Linked DNA regions of Homo sapiens: region 2 is linked to region 1. Evidence: fine-mapped expression QTL. A gene starts in region 1. The other region holds a variant in brackets. All regions are shown on one strand. Distances are between the middles of the regions.

Region 1 (11,543 bases):
TTAGGATGCTCTTCCTCTCTTACCATGTGCCACAGTCCCGAGGAGGCCTCCTGCCTCCAATCCTGCTCCCCATCCCCTGTTCTCTCATACACATCCACTCTTGGCTGCCTAGGTCTCACTGCCTACAGGGAACCACTGATCTGGCCCTACCTTCCCCTTCACCCCTTCCTCCAGCCACAGCTGTGGGGATACAGTTGTTTCTTCCCTGTTATCCAATTGCTACTCCTGAGCAGAGGAGCTTTAGTTCCAGGTGCTCCTGTTCCTGGAAGCCACGTATCTCAAAAGACATCGATCCCAGCCCCAGGGCTGGCTCCTGGCCGGTCTCAGCCCATCCTAGCACCCCAACCCCTTTGCCATTTCAAAGACCCAGGCTTAACCCAAGTGGCACTAGCAATTCCCCCATAGCAGGCATTAGCTCAGAGGGGACCTGAGGACTCAGGGAGCCCAGTGGGGACCATCATTTCATTTCCAAGCAGGCAGGACAGGCCCACTGTCCAGAGGAGATGGTGCTGTGTTAATGCATGGGAGAGGCCTACTTGGTGATTCTTATTTCTATTTTTCTAGCAAGAAGGACGGTCTTCAAACTGGAAAGGGAAGAGGACCATGTCACAGGGAAGTGTGGTCCAGGACATCTCTGGCTGCTTTCAATGTCTACCATTCTGACTGCCGAGGGGACGTAAGAGGGGCAGGAACACCACAGCTGGTTAAGGAGGGTGAGTTGAGCACACAGAGGCCGGTGCCAGATCTTGACCTCAATTCCTAGCAAATCTCCAGCCTAGAACAGCCTCTCAAAAATGCTTGCAAGTGTTTAGAAAATAATAATAATGACAAGGAGAGCACCAGCAATTCTGATATTATGCCTACTCTGTGCAGATACTGGACTAAGCCCTTTGTATGTATTAACTCACTCAAACCCCACAATAACCCTATAGAATGGGGACTCTGATCAGCCCCATTTGATGGATGAGTAAATAGAGGCCTAAAGAGGTTAGGGAGACAATGCAATATATCAGAAGGCAACACAGGGTCAGGATGTTGAGCCATCATGTTACATACTTATCAGAGTCCTGCTCCCTGGCATTGTAGACTTTCAGGATCAGGGCAGTGGTGTGCCCCCATCCCTCAAAAATCTGCATTTCTTTCTTTTCTTTTCTTTTCTTTTCTTTTTTTTTTTTTTGTGGCAGGGTCTCACTCTGTCACCCAGGCTAGAGTGCAGCGATGTAATCTCAGCTCACTGCAACCTCCGCCTCCCAGGTTGAAGCGATTCTCCTGCCTCAGTCTCCCAACTAGCTGGGATTACAGGTGCACGCCACTACACCGGGCTAATTTTTGTATTTTTTGTAGAGATGGGGGGTCTCACCATGTTACCCAGGCTGGTGTGGAACTCCTGAGCTCCAGTGATCCTCCCACCTCAGCCTCCCAAAGTGTTAGGATTACCGGCATGAGCCACCACGCCCGGCCCATTGTCTCCTCTTTTCTGCTGTGATACCTAGGTCAACAAAGTAGGGAACTATCAGGGACTAACCTAATCCATAAATAACATTATTAAGTAACATTCATACTTGATCCTGACTTCCTTAGTTTTTACCTAATGTCCTCTTCTTGATTCTAGGGTCCCATCCAGGACACCACACTGCATTTAGTCAGCTGCCTCCTTAGTCTCCACTTGGCTCTGACAGTGTCTCAAAATTTCCTTGTTTTGGATGACCTTGACAATTTTGAGAGGTCCTAATCAGGCATTTTGTAGAATGCCTCTCGGATGGGATTTGTCTGGCATTTTTCTCAGGACTAGACTGGGATTACTGGTTTGGGAGGAAGACCACAGAGGAAAAGTTCTATTCTCACCACATCACACCAAGGGTGTATGCCATCATCACAATCTGTCACTATCGATGTTGTCCTTGATCACCTTCTGAGACAGTGTTTGTTGGGTTTCTCCACTATACAGTTGCTGTTCCCCCCACTTTCCAAACTCTACCCTTTATAAGGAAGCCACTACGCACATCTCATGCTTACACGGTGGGACGTTATGCTTCACTTCCTCAATGGGGCAATTATCAACATACGTTATTCAGATTTCTTCTATACGAGAGATTTTCCTATTTATTTATTATCATCTGTTCAATAATTTATACATATATATATTTCATTATGGCCTCATGGATATTTATTTCATACTTTATGACCTAGTATATTTTGGTTTTTGCAAAGCATTTGATCCTGGTATCCCTGGTATTCTGGGGGTAGGTGGTAAACTGTGGACAATCAGCTCTAAGTTCACTGAACTACATATCTAATGAATGATCATTATCCATCCCAGAGCACAAGTGGCTGGGAAATCAATGTCACTGCCTGATTTTAAAACAAATAAAATAGAAACAGTCAGAGTACACTGCATTTCGTAAGGGAGCCCCCCCCCCCCGCCCCCCGCCACCCCACCGCTGGAAAACAACACTCCGATTTTTTAATGCATCAGGGGATAAGATGGGTAGTGAGTAGAGATGCAAAATATATTTCCACGGGTCTCGGTCAATACAGCATAAGCCGAAAACCACCCCTACAAGTGCCTCGGGGCCCTGTCCATGGTCCTGCCCTGCAATGTTTAACCAGCCTTGTGGATTCAGACACACCAAGCACTGCTTCTCCAGCCCGCAGGCAGCAGCACAGCTGAGAGTGATAGAGGTAGGATGCTAGATTCTCTTTCTTGACAGATACAATGTGATGAAATGAACAAGACGAAATTAAATGGGAATAAGGGCCAAGAAACAGGCTTAGATTCCAGAAATTACTGACAGACAACAGGCCCGAATGCTTCCACAAGCCAGGATTGTTAAAAGAAAAAAGAAAAGAAAAGAAAAGAAAAAGGAATTGTGTACAGTAAGAGAGACTAAAAGGTGACAACAACCACATACACTGCACAGTCCTGGAGAGGAAACAGCAAAAATGGACATTTTGGGGTCAAATAGGGAAATCTGAAAAAGGTCTGCATATTAAACCAGATGAAAATTTATTGAAGCAGAAAAGTCATGATCATTTACCGGCAAAAAAAATCAGGTTACAAAACAGTATGCACAGTATGATCTCATTTTCTGGAGAAAATTGACATATAAGCATGGAAACAGCTCTGGAAAGGTCTGACAGAAGTGTCATTGAGGCGCTGCCTGAGAGATAGGACACAATACTTTTTATTTTGCTTGTCCCTATTTCCAGTTTTCTGCAATGCATATCCACCGCTTCTGTAGTAATCTCAGAGTATGCTTTTAAAAGAAAAAAATCACTGACCCTCCCCGAAGGGTGGAGAATCCCTGGCTTGGCAGAGGTTTCTAAAACAGATCCCTGGAGGTTTCGGTGGCCAGAAACTTAATATAAGCAGAGTGCAGTGCCCCATTCAGAGGCAGCCCCACCCTAAGCTGTGTGCATATGTGTGAGGTCTTGGGGCTAATATAGTCCTGGTGGGGGCGGCGGGGGGCGGTCTGCTTGTCCAGCCCTTTCATGTTATTGCTAGGAAAACTGAATCACAGAATTAGTCGATGGCAGCTCCAAGGCCAGAAGCCAGAGGTCTGGCTACTGGGTCACATGGAAATGGCCTAGGGCTTCAGGAACTGGGGTATTTGGCCTGGAGAAGGGAAAATGGGAGTATGGAGCTGGGAAGGAGAGAAGGGGCAGGAGTGCTATTTTCAAATATTTAAAGGCTCCCCCAAAGAAGAGAGACCTATGTGAGTCCCCGTGCAGAACGGTGATGACTAAGTGACAAGCAGGTCTGTCTCTAGAGTGTATGAGGGAGAAGGTTCTAATGGCAGGAACTGTCCAGCTGGGGGAGAAGTGGGTGAGGCTTGCTGGGCACGTGGCTGAGGCCGGTGGCCCCTGCCAGAGGTTGTTGGGAGGCCCTTCCCACTACTGAGGCTCTGAGTTCGGGGACTCCAGGTTTCAGCCAGAGCTGGTAGCTTCTTTACCCGACCTGCAGTCTGTGTTCTGAGAGGAAGGAGCGCGACTATCCCCATGCCAGGAGTCTGCTCAGCCTGCCCCAGATGGGAGCCACTGGAAAAACGGAAGGGCTTGGCTGGCCTTTGGGGAAGAAGGGTCATGGTGGCAGCAGGCAGTGTCCCTCAGCAAAGCCCCGCAGAGGGCAGTCTGGGCTCTCACAGGCACTGCAGTGGTCTTTCCTGTGGTGGGTACCTGAGTTCTCAAGCCCTGAAGCTGCCTCACTCTCTTCTGCCCACAGCTCTCAGCGACTCACAAGTCCCGGCCCATGCCCAGGTGCGGGTGGAGAGATGATTCTCAATCGCCTCCCACTCTCTGGTGACGCAGAGGCACGGGCCCAACCTGGCCATCACCCAGCTTCTCCCATGTTCTGAAATGCCTGGTCCGACCTGTTCTGGGAACACAATGCCAGCCAGTGCCCATTTGAGGCCCATGGCCCCAGGCCCCCCATGCAGGGCCTGAGGCCTTAGATGGCCTTGGAAACCCACTTCTCAGGGCTTTTGGCTCCAGGGGAAACCCCTGACCATTTCAGCCAGGTGGGTGTCTTGTCCTCCCCTTGAGACACAGTCCCCAGTCCCCATGCCGGTGGCACCAGAGGACACTGGTGTAGTGTGCGTTTAGTGATATGACTCCGTCCACCCTACTGGCGGCACCGACCCTCCGCTTCCAGCCCTGTTAACAATCTACGTAAGTCCTGCTTTCCCCAAATAGATGCGGCCCCGCCACATGAAAGCCCTCTGCTCAGCCACCACTCCCCGAGCCTGGCTTTGCCTGGCCTGCTGCAACCAACACAGCCAGCTGCCAGCCTGGCTGCCCAGCAGAGCCTGAATGAGAGGTCACCCGACACTGGCCCGGGAGTACACGGTGGCCCCAGCAGACACCTCCTTCCGTGTCTGGGCAGGGTGTGTGCAGCCGAGGAGCCAAGGCTGCAGAGCACCCCTACCGGTCCCTTTCACCCCCTGGCCCGGCCCAGCAGGACGTACACAGACCCTTGCATCTTGGTCTCCGCAGCGCCGGGTGGGGTGGGGAGCCTAGGGCCGGATTCTGGCAGCTCTCTCCCCCAGACAAGGGTGGATGTGCAGACCGCTCAGAAGGACCTGCATGGCCGAGGAAGGAAGGTGGGCGCAGAAGCCACCCTAGGCGTGACGCGTGACGCTCGGGGCACGGGCGCCGGGGGGCGGAAAGCGAGGGCCCGGCTGGGCCAGGGATACCCGGGGGGGGCCGAGGTCCTGGGCTCCGGCGGAGGGAGGGGATTGGGAGGGAGGCCACCGCCTCGGGCCACGCGGGTGACCCGGCGGGGGAGCTGGGGGAGGGGCGGCGGGGCTGGGCTGGGGTCCCCGGGCCGGGACTGGGGTCGGGCCAGCTTACCTCCTCGCCCTGGCCGAAGCGCAGTCCGAGCGCCGCGACGCGCTCCACGCGCAGGAAGCCGTCGGGGTCGCGGCCGCACACCTCGAACACCTCGCGCAGGCGGCGCACGGAGCGCAGCAGAGCCGCGGGGGCGCCCGACCAGCCCGCGCCGCCCGCCATCCGGGCCGGCCCGCAGCTCAGCCCGGACCCCTCGCCCGCCGCGCCCGCCGCCTGCCCGCCGCCGCCATCGCCGCGCGCCCTCCGGGGCCGCCCGTCTGGGTCTGCGCCGCGCAGCCTCCGCCCGGTGGCGGCCGCGGCCGATCCGTGTCAGCAGCGGCGCCGCAGCCCCAGCCGCTCCGGAGGGGAAGGGAGGGGAGGGGAGGGAAGGAGAAGAGTGGGGAGGGGAAGGAGGAGGGGCAATAGGGGGCGGGGAGGGGAGGGGCGGGGGCCGCGGCGAAAATGGGAGGGAGAGGGGGAGGCGGCGGGGGCGGCGGCGGCGGGGACGCTGCAGACAAAAGGAGCCCGCGTCCTCCCGAGTGGGGCGGCCCACGCGGGGCCGGCAGGCGCAGCGAGCTGCCAACGGCCGCGTCCTCCGCGACCTCAGTTTCCCTCCGCGTCCCCAGTTTCCCTCCGCGTCCCCGAGCCCACCCCTTCCTCTGGACACCCGGAGCCACCCAAAGGCCCTGCCCTGCCGGAGGATTCCGCGGGGTCGCGCCCCTTTCCGCTATCCGTGCCCGCTGCCGCGCCTGGCGTCTCCCGAGCGCTCAGGATGTCCTGGGGGCCTCCTGCATTGGCGCGTTCCGTGACTGCATTCATCCCGGAGGAAGCTGAGGCCCAGAGAGGTCGGACTCACTCTAGGCCACACAGCTGGCAAGAGGCAGGGCCGGGATTCGCTGCCATCTCTGGAGGGCTCTGGACTCCGTTCTTCACCTCCGCCCTGCGGTCTCCCGGCGCTCTCCTGCAAGACAGCACTTGTGGGGCCATCGGGCGGGGGAGGGCACAGAGAGGAGGAGCAGGCAACTGAACCCCAGCCTGGACCCGGGACCCTGCGACGGGGAGATGAGGAGAAAACCAGGATGAGGCCGGAGGGAGGAAAAGCGAGGCGCTTCCAGAGGCCTGCCTGTTCAGGGCCCAAGGCTGCTCCACGCCTGGAAGAGGCTTCCTCCCTTTCGCCGGGTTCCCACCATCACACCTCCCTGGCAGCCCGCATGCCCCAAGCTCAGAGAATCCAGGACAGAATCTCTGTCCCGCTGGCCGCAGGCTCTAGGTCAGGACCCTGGCCTCCTCCCATTAGTGCTCAGCGGAGCCTCCACCCCAGCTTGTGCTAACTTCCCAGCCCAGCCTCGGGGCCCTGCAGGACCCGGCCGGGCTCTTCTCTCCACCTTCTTGCTCGGCACATCAGGTCTTTGTGGCAACGACTGGCCCCAACCCAAAAAAAGGCCTTGGCTGAGTCTACTCCCACCTATGCTGTCATGCTCAGCACAGAGGTTTCCTCCTCCGGGAAGGCTTCTCTGATGGCACGCCATCTTATCTTCTATTCTGAGTTCTAAGCCCTTCTTCCAGGTGCCCAGTTAATTCTTAATTCTCTAGTGGGATGCCCATTTCCCCTACCATGCTGGGAAGCCCTCCAGGGCAAGATATGTCTTAATTACCTTCAAGTCCCTGATCTCCAGGCAAGAGTGGGCCCAGAGGAAGCCCCACCCAGAGGGGATGGGCCCGCCCATTATGTGAGGAGCCGGGAGCAACGTAGTGGCGCAGACAGGGAGTACGGGGTGAACTGCATGGCCTCCCCTAGCTGGGCCTCGGTTTGTACCTCTGTGGTCTTCCTGCTCAACCCTGAATATATCCTGCGCAGGGACTGCCATTTGCCTTCTGACAGTGGGCGGGGACCTCTTCTTTCCAGCCCCGGCTCCTGGGATGAACCTGGCTTTTAGCTACTCTCCTTTGACCCTTCAGTTCGTCTGAGAGCCACGAAAGGCAACACCTCTTGGGAAGAGAGACCTGTGGTTCTGAGGATTGAGGAGTCCGAAATGTGAGAAAGCGGGAAAGGGGAGGCCGTGGGAGTGGAGTAGGGGTATTCGGCTGAGTAGGAGCGTCTCTGCTAGCTGGATGCCGCTCAGCAGGATACTAGCATATTTTAGCCGGTTTCCTCGCCTGTACCGTGAGGATAATAGTACCTTCCTTTTAGGGCAACTGAAGATGAGAGCGAATCTAAGCAATGCTGCTTTCCCCCGACCTACCCTGCAAAATGGAGGTGGAAGTGGAGAATAAGGACAAGCAGCTGGCTGGGAGAGACTGGCTGCTGGAGATCCAGCCAGCCCCCTGGCAAGGAGGTAGGGAGTGGAAGCTGGGGGCTGCTGCCTGCCCCTGGGACCCCGATATTAGTTCGTCCAAGGTCAGCTCGTGCCATTTTCTCTCACCCAAGGGGCTCAGCACAGAAAGGAGATGGCCAGGAGCTGGGGCTGCCCCCTGGTGGGGGCTGCAGAAATGGCTCTCCGCGCTCAGCCTGGCATTGAATGCCCCCTAACTGGGGACAGGGGAGCTGGAAGACTCACCCACTTCAGCTGGCAGAGGCGGGGACCTCAGACCTGAGCATGAACAAATCCCAAGTGAACCAAGACAGAATCCCGCAACCAGATTAGCCAGTTCTTGTCAAAGACAGGATCATCACAAATTCAAAAATCCCCCAGGAGAGCTTTCCCTGACCGGACTCTCCTTGCCCAGGTCTCTGCAGTTTTGTCTCTGGTGGGCGATGGTTTGAAGGACACCTGCCTCCCCCACCAGTGGCACTGGGTCTCTTGCTCACCGCTGTGCTGCTGGGGCCAGCAAAGCACGTCACAGGCATTCTTTCTGGGGTTGTCACGTTTTTGTTGAGCACCTACGTTGTGTTGGGTATGCTAGGGAGACAGTGAAAGGGGTGCAGCCACTTGCTGAACTTGATGGGGGCAGTCATGGCCCAGTGTGATCTACACTGAGGTGCCAGGCTCTAGGAGCCCAAGAGGGCCTGCAGAAATGGCTGAGTGCCTACCCAAAGGTCCCTCAGAGATGGTGCAATTTATGGAGTCCTTGGGTCCTTGGAAGTGGACCTGGGACCACTAGGGCTCCCAAAACCCTGATCCAAGAGCTCAGAGTGCAGCCCCGAGCAGAAGCAGCAAGAGAATACCCATGTCAGGGCCGGCTGCAGGGTGAAGGGGGTTGCTCCAGGAAAGCAAGAGGTCCCCATGGATAGGGCGGGAAGGCGCGGAGCCTCCTTTCTGTCCTCCGCTTCCTCCAGGTGACCTCTGATTCTCCAGGGGATTTCCAACAGCTGCAGCAGCCTGGGCAGGCTGGAAATATACTGGGAAATATACATGGAAGGGACAGTTGGGACTCCGGCCCCTTCTCTAGGAAGAAACAAGTTTGATCAGGTCCCTCCCCTGCTGAAAACTCAATGGCCACCATTGCCTGAGCTGGCATTGTGCAGTGTCTTCATACTCTCCTGCCTCTCCTTAACCCTAGTCTGGGAGCATCCAGGCTCCCTCCTGCCTCCCTTTGCTTAGTGGGTGGGAGGTCTCAATCCTACCCCCACCCAATTCCACTTTCTCTAATTCCTGTCCTTGTGTTGTGGAAGTGGCACTTCCTACCGGAAGCCTTTCATGACCACCCCACTCCTTGCCCACCTTGACCACCTCTCCCATGTGCTCCTGCAGAGAAGTGAAAAGTACAGACTGCAGCCCACTTACAGGTATGGATAAGGCTGTGGTGAGAGTCAGTAAGTTAATACATACATTGTAAGTGTCAGAACAGTGCTGCTGGTTAGTGACAGCTATTGTCCTTGTGACTATCCTTACCATCTTACTCCTATTGTCTATCACCGGATTATCTGGGAAACTGTATGAAAGGTCACAGGAGTGACCATGAGGTCCCTGGGAGCAGGGACTGTGTCTATTTCTCTCCTGATTTCTGTAGCTCCTAAATAATGCCCATACACACATAGTTAGGGTCTGTGTAGGAATAAATTAAGGAATGGACAAATATGGCATGGTAGGCTGAAAAATGCCCCCTTAAATGATATCTATATTCCAATCCCTGTACATCAGTGGTCCCCAACCTTTTTTGGCACCAGGGACTGGTTTCATACAAGTCGGGGGAAGAGGGTCTTGGGATGAAACTGTTCCAACTTAGATCATCAGGCTTCAGATTCTCATAAGGGGTGCGCAACCTAGATCCCCCTCCTGCGCCATTCACAATAGGGTTCCCGCTTCTATGAGAATCTAATGCCACTGATCTGACGGAAGGTGGAGCTCAGGCGGTAATGCCCACTCACCCGGCGCTCACCTCCTGCTGTGGTTCCTAACAGGCCATGAACTGGTAATGGTCTGCAGTCTGGGCGTTGGGACCCCTGCTGTAAATGTTACCTCATTAGAAAAAGGGTCTTTGCAGATGTAATTAAGGATCTGGAGGCTGGGCGTGGTGGCTCACGCCTGTAATCCTAGCACTTTGGGAGGCTGAGGCAGGCAGATTGCTTCAGTCCAGTAATTCGAGACCAGCCTAGGCAATGTGATGAAATCCTGTCTCTACTAAAAAATACAAAAATTAGTTGGGCATCGTGGCATGTATCTGTAGTCTCAACTACTCAGGAGGCTGAGGCAGGAGGATGGCTTGAGCCAAGGAGGTGGAGGTTGCCGTGAGCCCAGATCATGCCACTACAGTCCAGCCTGGGTGACAAGAGTGAGACCCTGCCTCCAAAAAAAAAAAAAACAAAAAAAAAACTAACAACAAAAAAAACAACAGGATCTGGAGACAGGGGGGTTATTCTGGGTTAGCTAGGTGGACCCTTAATGCAATCACACATATCTATAGGATGGATCAGAGGCAGATTTGACACATAAAGAGAGGGTAATGTGACCACAGAGGCAGAGATTGGAGTGGTGCAGCCATAAGCCAAGGAGCAACAGCAGCCATCAGAAGAGGCAAGGAGCAGAATCCCTCCCAGAGCCTCTGAAGGGCCCACAGCCCTGCTGATGCCTGGATTTTGGCCTTCTGGCCTCCAGAACTGTTACAGAATAAATTTCTGGTGTTTTAAGCCACCAAGTTTGTGGGAGCTAGCACAGCAGCCATGAGAAATGAATACAGATGGGATGAATATCATGTGGAAGTTATCAAAGATTATGAAGAGCCAGGCTTTGGAATTCAAAACAGCTGAGCTGGGCACCAACATCTGTTGCTCTTTTAGCCCCATGACTCTGGTCAGGTTAATTTCTCTAAGCTTCAGTTTTTCTACCTTGTAGAGGTCCTTCAGGCTTTTAATTTAAAAAAGATTGCGTCATGCCTCGCCCAGCGCTTGGCACAGTACCTGGCACCTGGGTGGTGATTATGTGTGTCAGTATGGAGCAGTTTAGAACCAGTCTAAAAGGGGGAACATTTCTGTATTTTCATCTGTGAGCCTTGACTTCATTGTCCATGTTGTCTGGAAATGGGGCAGGATTCAGTTACTTCCTGTTCACAACCTGCTGGGTTTTTTTAAACCCATGAATAATTATCACTTTGAAGGGGAAGAAGGTGCCGTGAACTTATTTTCCTTCTTCACTGATCCCAGAATATGTTTCTGTGAGCAAAAGCAGAGAGGCCCCTGCTTGGAGACACAGCCAGCCCTGCCTGTGGAGTGCTGAGGACCCTGGCTGGACTAGGGCACACTTGGGGTGCAGGGGGGCACCTTGAGACCTCATCTTTCCTCTGCTGCATGAGCTGTTGATGTGAGGGGTATCCAGAATCTTCTCTGACCCTTAGAAGCAGGACCGGCTGATTGCTAAAATTCCTTCCGGGATTCTAAGAAGAAATGCCAAAACCTAACTTATTCTACCCAACTGGGCTCCAGATCCTTCTGTCAGCTGCAGAAATGGCCCCTGAAACTAACTTCCAGGCAGGGCACCAATATTTCCCTCCTGGCTTAGGAAGCAGTGTCCTTGGTGAGTCAAATCCACTCACATTCCCTGGCTTTGAGCCTTCTCTACTGCCCACTTCTGCCTAAAAGAAAAACTCAATCCTCAGGGTGAGCGGCAAGCAGGAAGGCCCTTTACAGCCTGATGCTCTCCATTCTGTAAAACATGGCTGGGCAGTAACATCATCTACTATACTCAGTTTACATTTATTGAGCACTTACTATATCCCAGGCATTGTGTGGCATAGACTCCAAGACAGTGACTCAACATGGAATTGATCAGTGAAATGCCTGG
Region 2 (11,543 bases), 100 kb before region 1:
AGGCTAGTCTCAAACTCCTGGCCTCAAGTGATGCAGCCAGCCACCTTGGCCTCCCAACGTGCTGGGATTACAGGCCACCGTGAGCCACTATGCCCGGGCTCACTTTGATTTTTCAACTGTATGATGGTGCAAAGTGATCCACAGTCAGTAGAAGTCATACTTCAAGTACCCATAAGAGCATTGTCTTTCACTTTCAGCATAGTACTTAATAAATTGCGTGGGATGGGCTGGGTGCGGTGGATTACACCCAGCACTTTGGGAGGCCGAGGCGGGCGGATCACGAGGTCAGGAGATTGAGACCATGGTGAAACCCCATCTCTACTAAAAATACAAAAAATTAGCTGGGCGTGGTGGCGGGCGCCTGTAGTCCCAGCTACTTGGGAGGCTGAGGCAGGAGAATGGCGTGAACCCGGAAGGCGGAGCTTGCAGTGAGCCGAGATCGCGCCACTGCACTCCATCCTGGGCAACAGAGCCAGACTCCATCTCAAAGAAAAACCAAACCAAACCAAATCAAACAAAACAACAACAACAAAAAATAAATTGCGTGGGACATAAAACACTTTATTGTAAAACAAGCTCTGTGTTAGATGATTTTGCCCAACTGTAGGCTAAAGTAAGTGTTTGGGCACATTTAAGGTAGCCTAGGCTAAGCTATGGTGTTTGGTAGGTGAGATGTATTAAACGCATTTTTTTCTTTTTTTTTTTTTAACTTATGATACTTCCAATATACAATGGGTTTATCAGGACGTAACCCCATCAAGGAGCATCTGTAACTGGATTTCCAGAACCTACTCAAGAGACTCAGGGATTTATTTTTGGTCTGTCCTAAAAAAAAAAAAAAGTTGTATTCTCTTATTCTCTTTCACGATTAGTTTGAAATACTGCTACTTCTTAAGAGATGATATTTTGTTGAAATCAAAGCTTGGTGAATCTATGATTATCAGGATGGCATTCTATAAACACTATATGCCAATCTAAGTAAGTTATTTCCATTTTCTTTTTTTTTTTTTTGAGATGGAGTCTCACTCTGTCACCAGGCTGGAGTGCAGTGGCACGATCTCGGCTCATTGCAACCTCTGCCTCCCGAGTTCAAGCGACTCTCCTGCCTCAGCCTCCTGAGTAGCTGGGACTACAGGCGCGTGCCATCACACCCAGCTAATTTTTGTATTTTTAGTAGAGACGGGGTTTCACCATGTTGGCCAGGATGGTCTCGATCTCTTGACCTCGTGATCTGCCCGCCTCAGCCTCCCAAAGTGCTGGGATTACAGGCATGAGCCACCATGCCCAGCCACTTCCATTTTCTTGTGCATTCTCTCAGTAGTATAAGTATTCTATTTCAATTTCAGAGAAGCATATGCACAGTTCAGAGACGTTAGAATTGCAAAGGCAATTTTTGTTTGCCCAAAACTGTATTTAGTATAGTTATAAGACAAATGTAAAAGGTATTTTACCTACACAGCGATTGCTTTACAAGAGAATAAATCAGCAGTTAGCCCTGGAGCCACAGGCCCTCACACAAGGAGCCTTTTATCCTGGGTCAGGCTGCCTCTGTGACCAGCAGCGCTCAGTAACTGAACAAGATATTACCAGTTTCTCCGTGCCAGACAGTATTTCTGGCTACCTGACATCTGGAGCATTTTCCTCCCTCTGTTGTGGTCAGTGTGGGAAGGAGGGCCGCTACTGCCCCCGGGACACGTGGGCACCCTGCTCAGAGGGACGCCAGCTGGCCTGTGACATGGCCCAAACCCGAGCCCCACCCCCGCCACTCCACAGCGGTCTAGAGCTGGTTTGTAACCAAGGTGCAGCTGAATTTAGCTCAGTGAATCATCTCCAAGGAAAACCCACAGAGAAAGTGAACTCACCTTTTAACCAAGTCCTGGATGGGGTGTGACTGTCCCAAGAATGCCCTGGGTCCCAGATCTGAGTGCCCCAGTAAGCCCATTTCCTAAACAAAAAGGGTTTGAAGAGGCTATCTAGCCTACCCTCTGCCCTGCAAACAGAGCCAACGGCCTTGATTTTCAAATGAGAATGTGGACTTCGGAGGCAAACTGTTGGGGATTAAGAAAACAGAACTTAAATTGCTTCCACATCTGGAAAACAAACCCAGCAGCCAGCCCCAAGAATTCCAGGCATGCCAGCTCAAAGAGAAGCTGCAGGTCAGGGGAGGCTTTTCCTCTTAGCTTTCAGTCCCCCATCACCTACCTGAAGCCACAAAGATCTCCTGTCTACAAATAGCTAGTGGAGCCACAACTCAGAGAAAGAGAACAAAGTTGACATACTAGGGCGCCTACCATGTGGCCAGTCTGCTCTGTGCTTTACAGAGGTGGTAAACTCCCTGCAAGTAATTATCATTTTCCTCCTTATAGATGGGGAAATGTGGCCAGGTGCGGTGGCTCATGCCTGTAATCCCAGCACTTTGGGAGGCCGAGACGGGCGGATCACGAGGTCAGGAGATTGAGACCATCCTGGTCAACATGGTGAAACCCCATCTCTACTAAAAAATACAAAAATTAGCTGGACACGGTGGCACGTGCCTGTAATCCCAGCTACTCGGGAGGCGGAGGCAGGAGAATCGCTTGAACCAGGGAGTAGGAGGTTGCAGTGAGCTGAGACTGTGCCACTGTACTCCAGCCTGGCGACAGAGTGAAACTCTATCTAAAAAAAAAGAAGAAAGAAAGGAAGAAGGAAAAGAAAAAGTGGGGGAATGGTGTCCAGAGAGTCTCATCCACTTTCCCCTGAAGTATCCTGCAGTTTTTCTCTTTACTCCCCTTTGGAGTCACACAAAAAGTTGGGGCCATGCAAACCCAAATCAGGAGTTCCCTAATTTAAATCGTCCCATCTAAATTCTCAGAAAAGATTTCCCAAATGCCTACCGGAAGCTCCAGTTCCCATGCAGCCACTGCATCTCTGGTTCCCCCAAGAAAAGCATGGACCAGAGGTCCCAGCAACTCAACTCAAAAGCGAAGTAACGTGCTGCAGTTGAATGGGGTGCGTATAAAGGGCTCTCCTGGTTCTTGGAACGGGCAGCTATTTTTTGCTACAAATTATAGCTTTTCAAGATGTGGCTTTTTGAAGAGAGGGCTTAATTACTCACACAACCAAGAGTCTGTGGGGCTTGCTTTGGGGGCTCCATACTTTACCATCATGATAAGAGGAGCGATGATAAAAACACTTCACTCAAAGTGAAGGTTTGGGAGGGAAAACAGTGGCTCAGGCCAGCTCTTTCTTCTCGTAGAGTCCACCGGGTAGGTCAGGCTACATTTTCAGGGGAGCACCCTCCAAAGAGGTGACATGGAACTTTCCAGAGAGAGGCCACTATCCAACTCAAGGAGAGCATGCCTGGATGGAGCTGACCCACGGTCCAAAGCCAGGGTGGGTTCCCACCCAGCTCCTCCTCTGCCACAGAACCCTCAGGCCTTGAACAGCCAGCAGAGCACCGATGTTTACCCACAGCCAATGGCCAAGGCTCCACGTGACCCGCCCTTCTGGAGCAGGCAGGTCAGGGTCAGCAGGGTGACTCTCCTCCTCCCAACCCTGCAGGGCCTCCTGCCAGAGCCCTTGGTTTTTATAACCCTCTCCTCCTCCCTGCCCCATCTTCTGGTACCTCCCATCAGCACATAGCCCCCATGGTCTTCCCAGCAAGCTCAGTTCAGGTGTCTCTCTTTGTCCTGTGGCCTTTGCTAGACCCAGCTACCCAAGCTTCGTGTTCCAGAAGCTGCTGTCTTGCATGGGGGGTTGGGGGGTGTCACTCAAGCATAGCTGGCCAGAGCTCAGCTTAGGGCCTCCGGCCAGGGCAGGCTTTCTCGCAGTGGGGACAGGTGAGAGGGCATTAGGGGCTCATGGGGTGGAGACTCTCCCTCCCAGGGAGTCCATTGGGAACCCCCTCTAAGAGCTTGTGAGCTCCCCACTGCCCACAGAACCAGGCCCAGCTCCTGAGAGCAGCTCGCAAAGCCCCTTCCAGCAGGTCTCAGCCTCAGGACATGCTCTGCCTCTCCCCTTCCCTAGTACCCCAGGCTCCTGGGCACCTTTACCCACCCCAATGCCTCAGCACATGCTGCTTCTTATGCACAGGGGGCATAAGCACCACCTCATCAAAGAGGGGGCTTCGAATCTCTGACACTACACACAAAACTGAGGAGGTTGGGCTACTGGCTTTCATTGGAATCTCAAGAGGGAGGGGGCAGAGAGAAGATCTCCAAGGAAAACAAGGTTTAAAACCATCACCTGCTCTTAAAGCCTCCCTCTAGCCAGCAGCGCACACTCAGCCCCTGCTTGGGGGCCACTGTCACCCAGACATCCCCATGTGGCTGTCTCCTGGTGCCTCCCCAACTCAGCCCCGACTTCCATGAACAGCCCACACCTAACCCTCTGTACTGCTCCAGCCAGACCCTGTGCAGCCTTGTCATGTGCACCCCTGTAGGTGCCGACTGGGTGCCCACCCCACCACTCTTCCTCCTCTCTCTCCGTCCTGCCTCACCCCACTGCAGCCCAGCCATCCTGAAGGACGGGGCCCCTGACACATCCTGCTCACACAGGCCCCTGTGCCTTTGCCACTGCCCCCTGCCCAGAACTCCTCCGTCTGTCTCAGGAGCAGTGCCACTGGCTGGCACTCCCCGAGATCCTTAACACCTAAACAAGCACAAAGCAGTTTTTTTTTTGTTTTGTTTTTGAGATGGAGTATCGCTCTGTCGCCCAGGCTGGAGTGCAGTGGCATGATCTCGGCTCACTGCAGGCTCTGCCTTCCGGGTTCCAGCGATTCTCCTGCCTCAGCCTCCTAGGTAGCTGGGATTACAGGCGCCTGCCACCACGCCGGGCTGATTTTTGTATTTTCAGTAGAGATGGGGTTTCACCATGTTGGTCAGGCTGGTCTCGAACTCTTGACCTCAGGTGATCCGCCCGCGTTGGCCTCCCAAAGTGCTGGGATTACAGGCATGAACCATCGTGCCTGTCCACAAAGGGGTCTTAAACATTTGAGAACAAGGAAAGCACGCATCTGCTAAGCACCTATTGTGTGCCAGGTATTTCTGTGCATCAGCCACTATTTAGATGAGAATACACAGGTTCAAGGAGGTTAAGTAATTCGTGAAAGGTCGCAGGGCTGGGATTTGAACCAGGTCTGATTTTAACGCAGCAAGGAGGGTACAGAGAATACCAAATGCTCTCAGCGATGCGACATCCAGCACCCCATGGACAACACTGTGCACTGGAGTGGACTCAGGCTGACCCTGCAGCCACAGGAATGGCAGTTAGCAACGCTGATGGTACCAGAACTTGGACTTGAGCTGAAGCTTGCAGGGACCACAGCACACTGGGCTTCTGAGGTCTGTGCCATCCAGGCCATCAGGCAGAGCCCTCCTCCCCTTTCCCACCCCAGGGAGCTTCAAAGAGGCTACATGTGGGAAGACTTTACAGAAAGGGAGAGGAGAGATTTGAAAGAAAATTGCTAAAAGGAAACACATGTGAAAATGAAAACTCAGGCAAAGGGGGAGAAGGACGAGGGAAGAAGAGTAATGTCCAAGGATTATAAACTGAGTCAAGAAGCCCTTGGAACACCAGTTTCCCTCTGCTCCCTTGGGAAGGCCAGTGACCCACTCCCAGCCCTCATTTTCCCTCTTAACCCAGATGGAACGGGGCAGACCTTAGATGATACCCAGCAAGAGAAACAGGGAATGTTGCCTTGCACACAGCCATGACAACTGTGGAGCCACGATTCATATGTGGTGGGAGGAAAATCCCGAGGCTCAGAGAGGTCGCTCTACTTTGCCAAGGCCACACAGCTGGCGAGCCATAAAGCTGGAATCTAAGCCCAATCCAAGGTTGTCCCCTTGAACCACATCAGGGTCCCCTCATATAATCTGCCACCACTACAAGGTGGCTCCACCTGCATCCTTGGAGGAACTGGACAAATTATATAAGTTCCCCAGAGGTTACCTAGTTTCTATTTCATTAAATCTGAGACACCTCTGATTTTACAATGCACCGTTATTTCAAGTATGCCAAGAAAAAGGCGCTGTCAAATTATAATAATCCGCAAATGTGCGACACATTCCAATTTAAGATGTTAAATGGAAAAAAAGGAAAGGAAAAAAAGAATGTGCCTTAGAATCCCAGAAAATACCATGTAAGTGTGAGTAGGGAACAGGGATTCAGTCACAGTTCCGCAGACTGTGTGTGTGCAGTGAAGGGCAGTCAACAACTCCACACAAGCACATGAGCACACACCTGCTGCTATAAAATCCTTCTTTGCTAATAACTGATGCAATCGTGCAGATAATCATACAAAAATGTGTTGGCCAGACCTGCCTTGTCAACAAGAACCCTCATTTCACCAGGAGACCATCAATTCAAGGTTGCCTAACATCAGTCAGACGAGTCAAGCATGGTGGCTCATGCCTGTAATTCCAGCACTTTGGGAGGCCAAGGTGGAAGGATTGCTTGCGCCTAGAAGTTTGAGACCAGCATGGGTGACATAGTGAGACCTCATCTCTACCAAATGAATAAATAGCCGGGAGTGGTGGTGCACCCAGCTACTCAGGCAGCTGAGGTGGGAGGATCACTTGAGCCCAGGAGGTCGAGGCTACAGTGAGCCAAGATTGTATCGCTGCACTCTAGCCTGGGCAGAAATGCGAAACCCTGTCTCAAAAAAAAAAAAAAAAAAAAAAAAAATCAGTCAAGTGGAGGCTGTCCTGCCCACCTAACCAGCCAGGCTAGGCCAGGCTAGCCAGCTTCGCCTGAGTGGAGCTATAGACCTCTGGGCAGCCAAGCTGGATGACTCTGTGGTTAACTACCAAGGGCAGTCACCCAGTGTGGCTGGGCGGTGGCACAGCCTGCACCTTTTTGTCTGGCTTTTCTCCAAATCTCCTGGGGCTTGTGGCCAGCCAGAGCCTCAGCATTTTAATAAGGCAGATGCTGGGGGCTGGCAGTGGCAGATGGGCAGCACTGCTCCAAGCCAGCTTTTCCAGCTAGGCACAGGTGGATGGACAGGCAGGCCCTGGCTGGAGGTGAAGGGCAGGTGGGCCGAGGTGTGGAGGGCCATCCTCCCCTTGGCAGGCCAGCCACAGCCTGGCAGTGTGAGCAGCCTCTGGAAGGACAGGCTAGGTACAGTCTCCCTCACTGAACCTGGGGAGAAGTCTGTTACCTCGGAAGCTGCTTGACATCTCATTCAC[A/G]GACTGCCACACAAATGCTAGTCACTTCACCCCAGACCCAGAATCTGTATCTGCAGAGCCCGAGCAAGGTTTGTTAAAAACACAGAAGCTGGCTGGGTGCAGAGGCTCATGCCTGTAATCCCAGCACTTTGGGGGGCCGCGGTGGGAGGATCACCTGAGGGCAGGAATTCGAGATCAGCCTGGGTAACATAGTAACACCTCATTTCTACTTTTTTTTTAAAAAAATTAAAATTAAAATTGAAAAAAAAGATTTAAAAACCCACAGAAGCTGAGGAAGTAGAGTTTTGCTTCTCTTGCAAAGGCCCTTGAGTAATGGAGTTTTTCCGCTGCCACCTTCCTGTTTGGGCCATGACACTCCCCGGCAAGACATTCTGTTAGGTGCGAAGGTTATTAGTCACAACAATCAAACCAGCTGAAGCCTGCAGGAACTAAGAATAACAGCTCACCCCAAAGCACAGTTTTAAGTGCTTTTCATACATTTACATATTTGAGCCTTACCACGAACCCTGTGAGGGAGGTACTAGCCTCATCCTCTTACCACGAACCCTGTGAGGGAGGTACTAGCCTCATCCTCGTTTTACAGGTGGGGAAGCTGAGGCACAGAGAAATTAAATAACTTGTCTAAGATTCCACCAATAGCAAGGGGCAGAGCCAGGATCTGAACCCAGAGACAGCCTGACTCTGAAGGCATTTTGGTACTAAACTGGCCTGCCTCTCTAACCATCTAACCGTCCACGAGTGTCAACTAAGTAAAGGCCAGAACCTAGACTGGGCATCTTAAATCACCATGGCTCATTTTATTTTCACCATCACCCTGCGAGGCAGGTGCTATTATCAACCCCATTCTACCTGTTGGGCACCCCAACCCTCAGCCACCCCAAAGCAGGGGGGTGGATGAACAGGATGCCCCATCTGAATGCTGCCTGACACGCAAACACACACGTGTGTGCACACACACATATACGATCTGGGGCCCTAAACTGGACAGACTAAACCCAAAGCTGCTGCCCAAATGTGGGAGTGACTCCCTGGGGTCCTTAGGACCCCACAGAACCATGCTGCTGCCTGCCCACAGGCAGAGGGAGTGAAGAGTGAGGCCAGGGAAAGTGAAATCAGAAGGGTGAGGTCGCCTGTCCAAAGTTCCACAACTAGCGAGCAACAGAGCCAGGATCTAGACCTAGAAGTTTTCTGGCGCCCATTTTTTCTCCTTAAGGAAACAGGCATTGGGTGACAAAGCGTGGGATGCAGGTGTCTGTGTCTTAGGTAGGCATTTCTTCCAGGAAAACGAGGGAGCAGGGGGCAGGGACTTGCTGCTATTCTCGCTCCTATTCTAGGAGGGAGACTTGAGTCTGGTGCAGAGGGTAGACACCCCTCAGCTCCCTTACCCCAAGTTCACCGGAGCAGCAGCAGCTATTTGAAATGTGGGTTCCCTTTCCATGGTATCAGGCTTGCACAGCGCAGGGGGGTGGGGGGTGACCACAGATGACTAAAGAGAGAGAGCCCGCCCACTCTCCCACACTCCAGTTCTGTTTAGGCCTTCCTCTTTCTGGTACCTCAAAAGAGAAAGGCTCCCATGAGCAGAGCCACAGATATTAATAACTTCTACAGAGCTTTGTTTTCATCTGAATTAATGTTTACATTGTTGGGAAAGAACCCACTTGTCTGGGAAGATGAAGCAGGTTAGATCAATTAAAAATGTGACCAACAGTTGGAAAACTTCCCATTTCTTAAGGTCAGTCAAGAAGTGGGTTTGGAAGTGCTGGCATGACTAGCACTGGCCTGCTGGGCGGTTCTGGGCTGGAGGTCACTCAGACCCCACAGCTCTGGGCCATCACAGCCACCCCTCTGACCTTCATACGACCCTTGTAGGCTGCACGTCCTTCTGGTTGCCTATGTTCTCCTCCCCGTCTCATCTCCTTTCCAGGTCATGCGAAAAAGTGAAGAAGTAACCACCAAGGTTGTCTGGGTGCTCAGGGGGGTTCTGAGAATCTGAGCTCTTGTCATCAATGCTCTTGAGGGGGGCTCAGCTCCTGAAGCACCAAGACGCTCGGGACCCCTCTGAGCAAGGCCAGCTGGGCGCCCCCAGCATCCACTCAGCCTTGAATGGGGTCCACAGAAGCTGGCCAATGACAAATTCCATTCAATTAACAGTATTATGATGAAGCTGCAAACACTTGGGGAAGGACTGCCATGTGTAGTCAGACACTTGGCATGAGATAATGAGAAAATAGCTCCAAATGAAAACAGATAAGGGTGCAGTCCAGGCTTCTGGGGGCACCTTCTCTGCAGCCTGCCACCCAGTGTGGGCTCCAGATCATGGTGCTTGGAACCGTGGTCAGGCCCAAAGCTACAAATCCTCCCAGGATAACATGTGCTGGCCAGGAGAGGTAGCCAAGACACCCTGCTGAAGCCCCACCCACCAAAAACTCAGAGGGCACCCCAACCTTCAGCCACCCCATAGCAGGGGGGTGGATGAACAGGATGCCCCATCCGAATGCCGCATGACACGCAAACACACGTGTGTGTACACACATATATATGATCTGGGGCCCTAACCTGGACAGACTAAACCCAAAGTTGCTGCTCAAATGTGGGAGTGACTCCCTGGGGTCCTTAGGACCCCATAGAACTGTGCTGCTGCCTGCCACAGGCAGAGGGAGTGAAGAGGGAGGCCAGGGAACCCTTGAGGATCAGACAAGAGATGAGGAGACAGCCTGGGTGACACAGGCCAGAGTACGGAAAACACGGGCAGGCTGCTGGCTGCTTTATGAGCCTTGAGAGCAGGACCTGTCCCTACCCGACAGGAGCTGACCCGTGGGAACAGCAGGCAGGCCCAGGCAGCTGTCAGAGACACAGCTGTATGCACATCGCCGGCGTGCCCTTTGCTGGTTTGATTCGTGTGGTGGCAACAGCATAGTCTGGCAGGAAATGTTTCCACGTTCACATGGACAGGCTCGTCTGACCCAACTCAAGCTGAGGGCAGGGAAGTCTGTGGCAGCAGTGGCCACAGAAGCCTGTCCTCCAGAAATGCCTCAATGCCCAAATCCCCTCGACGCGGAGGCTCTGAGAAGGGCAGAGCAATGGAAGGCAGCTCGTGCCTGTGGATTTCTAGTCTCACTTGTACTGTCAGTCCCCTCTCCTCCTCCTCCTGGGATTCTGGGTTGTCACAGCATTGGGTGGTCCCCCATCTCTCTGAGCTTGTCCCCTGTCCCCCCAGCCCTGGCTTGCTCTCCAATCACATCCTGTCTTGTAGTTCTGTGGACAGACATAGCATGCCAGCCACCGTCCCACCTCAGGGCCCTTGCAGTTCCTCTTTTCTCTGCCTGAACCTCTTTCGTTTGGATGTCACCTTCTCAGTGAGGACTTCCCTGTCTGACTCTGAAACCCAGCACTCCCTCCCCTTCCCTGCTCTTCCTCCTGCCAACTCCCATACTCCGTGTTTTACTGCTCTACCTGCCTCACTACCATCCTGCGAGCTCCTTGAAGGCAGGGGTTCTCGTCTGTTTTGTTCACTGCTGTATCTCCAGTGCCCAGCACAGAATCTGGCACAAAGTAGGCAACGAAGAATCTGGTGAATGAATTCAGTACCACTTGCCCTGTACTGGGAAATGTGCTGGGGGCTGAGCAAACAGAAATGGGGAAGCCTCCGTGTCCTGAAACGCCTCCTGGTGAGGGAGACTGTGGTACCATTCAGGGGCAAAGATCGTACGACATCCAGTAAGGCACCAGGTGGGACTGCCAAATAGGCAGGCCTGTCTTGTGGTGCCTAATTGGTATGGATGGGACCACCCAATAATCCAGCCATGAGACCTGAGATGAAGTAACTGGGCATTGATCTTCGAGGCCAGTGTTTGAAGCCATAGGTGCCCAGTTCCTGAGTCAAGAGCCAGCAGAGCTGACCCAGAGGAAGACAGAGTCCAGCCCCAGGGGTTCTGTATGCCTGGCAAGGCCAGGGCACTGTGCCCCACTGCTAACACCAGACAGCAGGCACGAACAGATAAAGATGCTTCAGCTGGGTGTGGTGGCTCATGCCTGTAGTCCCAGCGCTTTGGGAAGGTGAGGCAGGCAGAACCCTTGAGCCCAGGAGTTTAAGACCAGCCTGGACAACATGGCAAAACCCCATCTCTACAAAAACAAAAACAAAAATTAGCCAGATGCAGGGTGGCACACACCTGTAGTCCCAGCTGAGACTGAGGTGGGAAGATTGCTTGAGCCTGGGAGGGTGGGAGGCTGCAGTGAGCCCTGATCACACCACTTGACTCCAGCTTGGGCCATAGAGCAAGACCCTGTCTCAACTCAATTAAAAAAAAAAAAGATGCTTCCTTTTCAAACACAATGAGCCCTGTGCCAGGAAACAGCATGCCCTTTCTCATTCGG

What was found. PIP is the estimated chance that this variant, and not a neighbour inherited with it, causes the effect.
Region 2: its variant is fine-mapped to the expression of RAB11FIP4 in whole blood (TOPMed, PIP 0.97).

Annotation. Positions count from the first base shown.
Region 1 is chr17:31,385,818-31,397,360 of GRCh38, reverse strand. It overlaps RAB11FIP4 (RAB11 family interacting protein 4), which reads right to left and starts at 5,686. Exons shown (of 15, transcript NM_032932.6): 1 at 5,350-5,686. The coding sequence starts at 5,508. RefSeq lists an enhancer at 5,882-6,471.
Region 2 is chr17:31,490,490-31,502,032 of GRCh38, reverse strand. All of the region lies in intron 3 of RAB11FIP4 (RAB11 family interacting protein 4), which reads right to left. Among named protein-coding and RNA genes, the nearest start is that of MIR4724, 39 kb to the left of the region's middle. RefSeq lists enhancers at 1,199-2,158, 2,159-3,120. The variant A/G (reference allele first, on the strand shown) is at 7,167.